Linked DNA regions of Homo sapiens. The protein of the gene in region 1 interacts with the protein of each later gene in a pairwise test. Each region holds a gene or a part of one and is shown in the gene's direction. Other genes may lie near its edges.

Evidence for each region.
Region 2: the proteins of RASAL2 (region 1) and SYNJ1 interact in a two-hybrid assay, tested with the Homo sapiens proteins (one large-scale study listed by BioGRID and IntAct).

The regions. Positions count from the first base shown.
Region 1 is NC_000001.11:178,100,277-178,104,106, forward strand, and holds part of RASAL2 (ras GTPase-activating protein nGAP), read left to right. Parts: intron 1-3,830. UniProt on the Homo sapiens protein: Inhibitory regulator of the Ras-cyclic AMP pathway.
Region 2 is NC_000021.9:32,630,927-32,634,131, reverse strand, and holds part of SYNJ1 (synaptojanin-1), read left to right. Parts: intron 1-2,311; coding exon of another isoform or gene 2,312-3,137; 3' UTR 3,138-3,205. UniProt on the Homo sapiens protein: Phosphatase that acts on various phosphoinositides, including phosphatidylinositol 4-phosphate, phosphatidylinositol (4,5)-bisphosphate and phosphatidylinositol (3,4,5)-trisphosphate. Has a role in clathrin-mediated endocytosis.

The DNA.
Region 1 (3,830 bases):
AGGCCAAGGTGGGCGGATCACCTGAGGTAAGGAGTTTGAGACCAGCCTGGCCAACATGGTGAAACCTTGTCTCTACTATAAATACAAAAAAAAAAAAAAATTAGCAGGGCATGGTGGCACATCTGTAATCCCAGCTACTCGGGATGCTGAGGCACGAGAATCGCTTGAGCCCAGGAGGGAGAGGTTGCAGCTAGCTGAGATCGTGCCACTGCACTCCAGCCTGGGCAACAGAGCGAGACTCAGTCTCAAATAAAAAAAAAAAAAAAAAGTTGTACAGTTGTGTTTCCTACTATAGTGAGTGAAATTTCTGTGGTTTGCTAAGAAAAAGAAAAGAGATTCACATGACATAGTAGGCTTTACCAAGATTATTAAGGAAATGGTGGCAAGGTAGTGGTTTCGGATCCTTTGTTTCATTAGAAGGAAGGATGAGGTAAGTTGAAATAGAGGGTTTATGTAATTGTTCTTTGCAGTTGCTTTCTTCAGTAGCACAAAGTGATTTGATCACCTTTTAAGTAGGTGAACCACAAAAAAGCATTCAACTAATGACAGTTAATTCAGAAAAACTTCAGCTGTTTGCTCCCTTGTCCCTCCCTATTGGAAAAACTTTTAACTAACTAGAGAGTTGTTTGGTCTTGTTAACCAGGAGGAGGAGTTTGAAGTGTGCTAAGGGCACTGCTAAAATTGCTTCACCCTATCTTGGTAGAGGGATAATTGCTGTCTGATGTTTGTAAAAACACCTTTCTTCCCAAAGGCTGTCAAGTACTTCTTAAGGCTAGCATGTAGAAAACCCTTTTGCAAATTTCATGTAGTTTATTTTATAGTGAGAGGGCAGCCCATCAAGAAGTAATGTGGTTCACAAGTAGAAGGGAAAAGAGAAGTCTTGAGGCCCAGTGCAGTGGTGTTAGTGAGTATACAGTAAACAAAAGAAATAAAAATTGAACCCTTAAAGGCATAAAAACATTTCATTTGCTAGACTATGATACAGAAGTTATCACTTTCCTAATCTCTACAGCTGGGTTCAGATATGAGCTGTCTGAATTTTACCTTCCCTTACCAGGTGTTAGTAACATCAATTAATTGTCTTTGTTGGCTTTGCTCATAAGGGTTCAGTTTAGATCCTGATTGTATTTTTACCCCTCCATAAATTATCTTCAACATTGCTCGAGTTCCATTCACATTGTGTCACTTGTAGCAGACTTTCTAAAAGTACCCCTTACCTCCATCCCTGAGTCTAAGGGATTGGTAATACTTATAGATATTGATTGAGAGAGTGAAAATTTAGTGAGGGGAAAACATTCAACATAGATAAGATAACAAAATTCGGAAGAGTAGTCTGAAAAGTTAAAATGAAACCTTAAAGTCAATAGTTTTTGATATTTTTCAAAGCAATCCTTTAGGTTTTCTCATTGAAGAAACTGGCTCAGGAAGTTTAGCTTATTCCCAAAATTGGAGACAGACTCCACAGTTTGTCAGGATTGGAACTCTTAACCTCAGATTCCTTAGCCTCCTGATTTAGCTTCTAGATCTTGCTGCCTTCCCTTAGGGAGATGGCCTCTCAAAGCTGAAGGTCAGGAAAACTCGACAGTGAGAAATACCAGATTGTTAGTTTCACAGTCTTTTAAGGGAAATGCTGGAAATACCATTACCTAGGTAACAGAAAACAAAAATGGACAAAACATCCATAAAGTAGGAGGATGAAAATAATTTCATAGTAATCCTTAAGAGATAGACCAGAGGACAGATGAGATTTTTTTTTTCATATTTTTCCTAAGCTTATTATGCATACTTTTTTTGGTGCTGTGATTGGAAGTGATGTCTGAAGGAAATTTGAATTTCATATATGATGCTTAGAACCCTGAATAATACCTAATAACTTTGTACCTTCCACTTGAATTTCTAACCTCTGATTCCTGTCATTAAAAATTAATACCCTTTTTCTGATTATGAATATAATTTGTGCTTAACATAAAGAATTAGAATTTTAGGAAAAGCCAAAATTAAAATCATTTGTAATTCTACCTCTTAGAGATAACTATCATTTTTTTTTAAATATTATATTTTAGAGACGGGGTCTCATTCTGTTGCCAAGGTTGGAGTGCAGTGGCGCAATCATAGCTCATGCCCAGGTTGGAGTGCAGTGGCGCAATCATAGCTTACATATTATCCATTGCCTGGGTTCAGGGGATCCTTCCACCTCAGCCTCCCGAATAACTGGGACTACAGGAGTGTGCTACCACACCTGGCTGAGATAATTATTCTTTTAATATTTTATTGTGTTTTATTCCAGTCTTTTTTGTGTACAGATTTTTTTGTATTAATACATATTTGGTATCAAACTGCATATATTTTACATTCTACTTTTTTTCTCTTAAGTGTATTTTCTCATGTTATTGAAAACATTAACACATTTTTTTAAATATGTTATTTATTTTAAAAAATAGGTAATATATTCCTTTGTTCCAAAATTCAGAGTATAAAAAGATATTCCATGAGCTCTCTCTTACTCTTCCTCCCTGCCTCTACAACTTGCCATCTGGCAGGCATGGTCCCTCTTCCCAATCAATAAATACTTGAAATTGTTATGTATCTTTCCATACCTATTCCACGTGCATAGAAGCAAATGTAGAGATAGATAGATATGTAAAAATCCTGCCATAAGTGGGATCCAAGAAATCTAGTTTACAAAAAATTCAGGGTTATATTTCTGTGAGGTTAGTGAAATGACCAGAACAAACCTGCAAATGAAGTTGGCCATGAGTTCTGGGGGTCTGGAGCCGGTAAATTGCTTTATATCTGAAATGATATCATAGGTTTTTACTGTATATATGCATTTTTCTCTATTTTTACACGTATGATAACCCATTAGAACTGATTTTTATCTGCACTTTGAGATTGCTTCTTCTTTCTTCCCCCCGCCCCTCACTTATTAATGTATCTCAGATATATTTTCCTTTCATTTTGTAAAGAGGTACCTCATTCTTTTTATGGCTGCATAATGCCTGAATTAATCATAACTCATTTAATTATTCCCCAAGTTTTGCTAGTTCAAGTGATTTTGCAGTGAATGATCTTGAGTATAAGCCATTTTGCTTGTGTATGAGCATATCTGTAAGAAAAATACATAGAATTGCTAGGTCAAAGGTACGTGTATTTGTAATTTTGAAAGATATTGCCAAATTGCCCTACCTGTCTGTACTTCGCCCGCAATATATGAGAGTGCCTGTCTCCCCACACATAATGAATTATCACGAAATTTTGGATCAGACAATCTGAAAGGTAAAAATGGTGTCTTAATTTAATTTTTTTTAATATCTTTTACATTAAGTGTGATTGAACATCTTTTCATTTTTAAGAGTCATTTAAATATAACCTTTTCTGTGAACTGTACATACCTTTTGCCCATTTTTATTGGGTTCTTGGATCTTTTTCTTAGTGATTTGTAGGAACTATTAGTATATTAAGCAAAGCATACTAAGGAACTCTTAGTATTTAAGTAAAGAACCCTTTATCTGCAACAGTTGCCAGTATTTTCATTTTTCTTATGGTATTCCCCCCACCCTTATGAAGAAATGATTCTTACACAATTGAATGTATCGGATTTTTCTTTTATGGCTTTTTGGTTTTATGTCAGAATGTATTTTATGTTAGAATGGGCTTTCCTGGGAGTTCTCTGGACCTTTATTTTGTAACCTCAGAATAGGAAAGCCCATTCTTTTTTTTTCCCCCTCTACATACACTAAGTACCTAAATACCCTTGGGGGACAAAAAAAAGAGTGGGCTTTCCTGTTCTGAGGTTATGAAATAATTCTCTCTTGGTTTATCTAGTACTT
Region 2 (3,205 bases), on another chromosome or scaffold:
GACTTCTGTTCTAAGCTGGCAGAGCACAAAATTCTCCTTTCCTATAATGTCTGTGTTGCAGACGATTCTATCTGCCATAGGAGAATTTTGTCTCAGACAGAAGTATTTCATTTTGTATTAACTATAAATAGTCCAGAGATTTTTGGTAATATAGAGTTAATTTTATAATATCTATATAAATTTCCTTTTAAGTACATTTCCACATATAGGTCTACTTACCTAAGACATTTAGAGTACAGTTTAAAGTCTGTGACATGTTTTCTCTTTAGTTTTGTACAAATTTATCACACTAAGTTTGAAGAAAAATATACTGTTTCAACCAATTATAAAGCATATTCTAGGATAGTTGAATAAAACAGATACTTGAAAGTTATTCACTTAAGTCATCCATTTCCTTTTACAAGTGAACATCCTTCCATATTCTTAAGCAGTAACTAAGTGTTTCATAGTATGCAGTTACATTTTATTGAGACTGCTGCTGTTTTTTTCCAATATATTTCATGAAAGTATAGTTATGTTGCTTTAACAACTATCCAAATTCCTTTTGGGCAGTGCTCATTTTATTACATTGCCAGTCTTGAACTGAATTTTTTTTTGCCCTATCGTATCCAACCCTGAAGTTTTCTTAAGTTAGCATAAGTGTCCAAGTCATCTACCCTAGTTTTAAGAATTATATACATTTTTTTCAAAATTAATAATGTATGCCTGATAAGCTAATTTGCTTATGAGGCAAGAATCATAGTTCTTTTCCTTCATCCGATCATTTGTCTTTGCTCAGTCCCTTGGCTGTGCTCCACTCCAACCACCTTCTTTATGGAGTAGGGACCAAGGGATTTAGGGCAGGAGTGAAGGAATTCCAAGCACTCTTCCTACTGATAACAGTTCACAGCCAACTCTGTCACATAGAAGGGACCAGGCACCACTCTAGGCACATCATTGTGGTTGTAGACTTCATAAACCAAATAGAAAATGGAACTTTTTTTCCTCTGGTTTTAAGCAATGGTTGCATTTGGTTACTAATAGTGTATCTGTTTTGGAATATTTTTACAAGACAGGAGGGTCAATTTTTTTATGGAAAGTTGTCACATTACTCAGTTTTTGTTTTTTGTTTTTTGAGGCGGAGTTTTGCTCTTGCCCAAGCTGGAGTGCGGTGGTGCGATCTCAGCTCACTGCAACCTCTGCCTCCCAGGTTCAAGCAATTCTCCTTCCTCAGCCTCCTGAGTAGCTGGGATTATAGGCGCGCACCACCATGCCCAGCTAATTTTTTGTATTTTTAGTAGAGACAGGTTTCATTATGTTGGCCAGGCTGGTCTGGAACTCCTGACCTCAGGTGATCCACCTGCCTCAGCCTTACAAAGTGCAGGGATTATAGGCTTGAGCCACCGCGCCCAGCCTCACATTACTCAGTTTATTCAACAAAGGAGAGCTTACATTAAAAGTCAGCTGTGCCGGGCATGGTGGCTCACGCCTGTAATCCTGACACTTTGGGAGGCTAAGGTGGGCAGATTGCCTGCACTCAGGAGTTTGTGACCAGCCTGGGCAACATAGTGAAACCCCATCTGTACTAAAATACAAAAAATTAGCTAGACCTGGTGGCACACGCCTGTAGTCCCAGCTACTCAAGAGGCTGAGGCACAAGAATCACTTGAACCCGGGAGGTGGAGGTTGCAGTGAGCCAAAATCGTGCCATTGCACTCCAGCCTGGGTGACAGCACAAGACTTGGTCTCCAAAAAAAAAAAAAAGAGGGGGTGGGCAAAGAACTCTCAAAATTTATTTTTCCAAGTAGAAGACAGAAAGATGGAGTCTTCGTCTTAGGAATAAAATATGCTAATAGAATTAATTTTATCTATAAAATTGAATTTCCATAGTAACATTAATTTTAGAAAACACACTTAAAAGAACAATGAAACCACATCATCATCATAGATGGGTGTTAGAATTTTATTTATATAGATTTAGCATAAGTTATAAGTATGGATTTCTTAAGTTCATGCTGAAATGTGATAGAACTGGGCATGAACAAATTTGTTAATTCTGTACAATTCTCCTTCTTACCATTTCAAAACTTGCATGAATGAAATAAGCTCTTTGATTTTGAGGGATTTAAAAATGGATTTAATTAGAAAGGATTTATTTAGAAAGAAGTTTTTAAAGACTGTAGGTGTTTCATGTTATTTAAACCACCGGAGTAACAAACTACACAAAGCTACTTTTTAGTTTCTAAATTTACATGCTTGCCCCTAAAAGGGAAGAATAATTGAGACAGGAAGAATAGGGGGTATTAAGAGTAAATATAAACTGATTTTTCAGTGCTCCCTTTCTTTTGCAGGTAAAAACAAATGGAATCTCTGATGGCAAAAGAGAATCACCATTAAAGATTGACCCATTTGAAGATCTGTCATTTAATCTGCTTGCTGTATCAAAGGCTCAGCTATCTGTTCAAACGTCACCTGTTCCCACCCCAGACCCAAAGAGGTTGATTCAGTTGCCTTCTGCAACGCAAAGTAATGTTTTGAGTTCTGTAAGTTGCATGCCAACAATGCCTCCAATTCCAGCTCGGAGTCAATCCCAGGAAAATATGCGAAGTTCTCCAAACCCATTTATTACTGGCTTGACCAGGACAAATCCTTTCAGTGACAGGACTGCTGCTCCTGGAAACCCATTTAGAGCCAAGTCTGAAGAATCAGAGGCAACTTCATGGTTCTCCAAAGAAGAGCCCGTTACTATCAGTCCTTTCCCTTCTCTGCAGCCTCTTGGTCATAACAAAAGCAGGGCTTCATCTTCACTTGATGGCTTTAAGGACAGTTTTGATCTACAGGGCCAGTCTACATTAAAAATTAGCAACCCGAAAGGATGGGTAACCTTCGAGGAAGAAGAGGATTTTGGTGTGAAAGGGAAGTCAAAGTCAGCTTGTTCAGACTTACTGGGTAATCAGCCAAGTTCATTTTCTGGCTCCAACCTGACATTGAATGATGACTGGAATAAAGGTACAAATGTCTCCTTCTGTGTGTTGCCGTCAAGAAGACCTCCTCCACCTCCTGTCCCTCTGCTCCCGCCCGGCACCAGCCCTCCAGTAGATCCTTTCACGACCTTGGCCTCTAAGGCTTCACCCACACTGGACTTTACAGAAAGATAACGCCATGCAATAGAAAACAGTGGGTACTTGCTTTTGGCAGGATAGAGCTAAGAGAATTGGGCATTAGT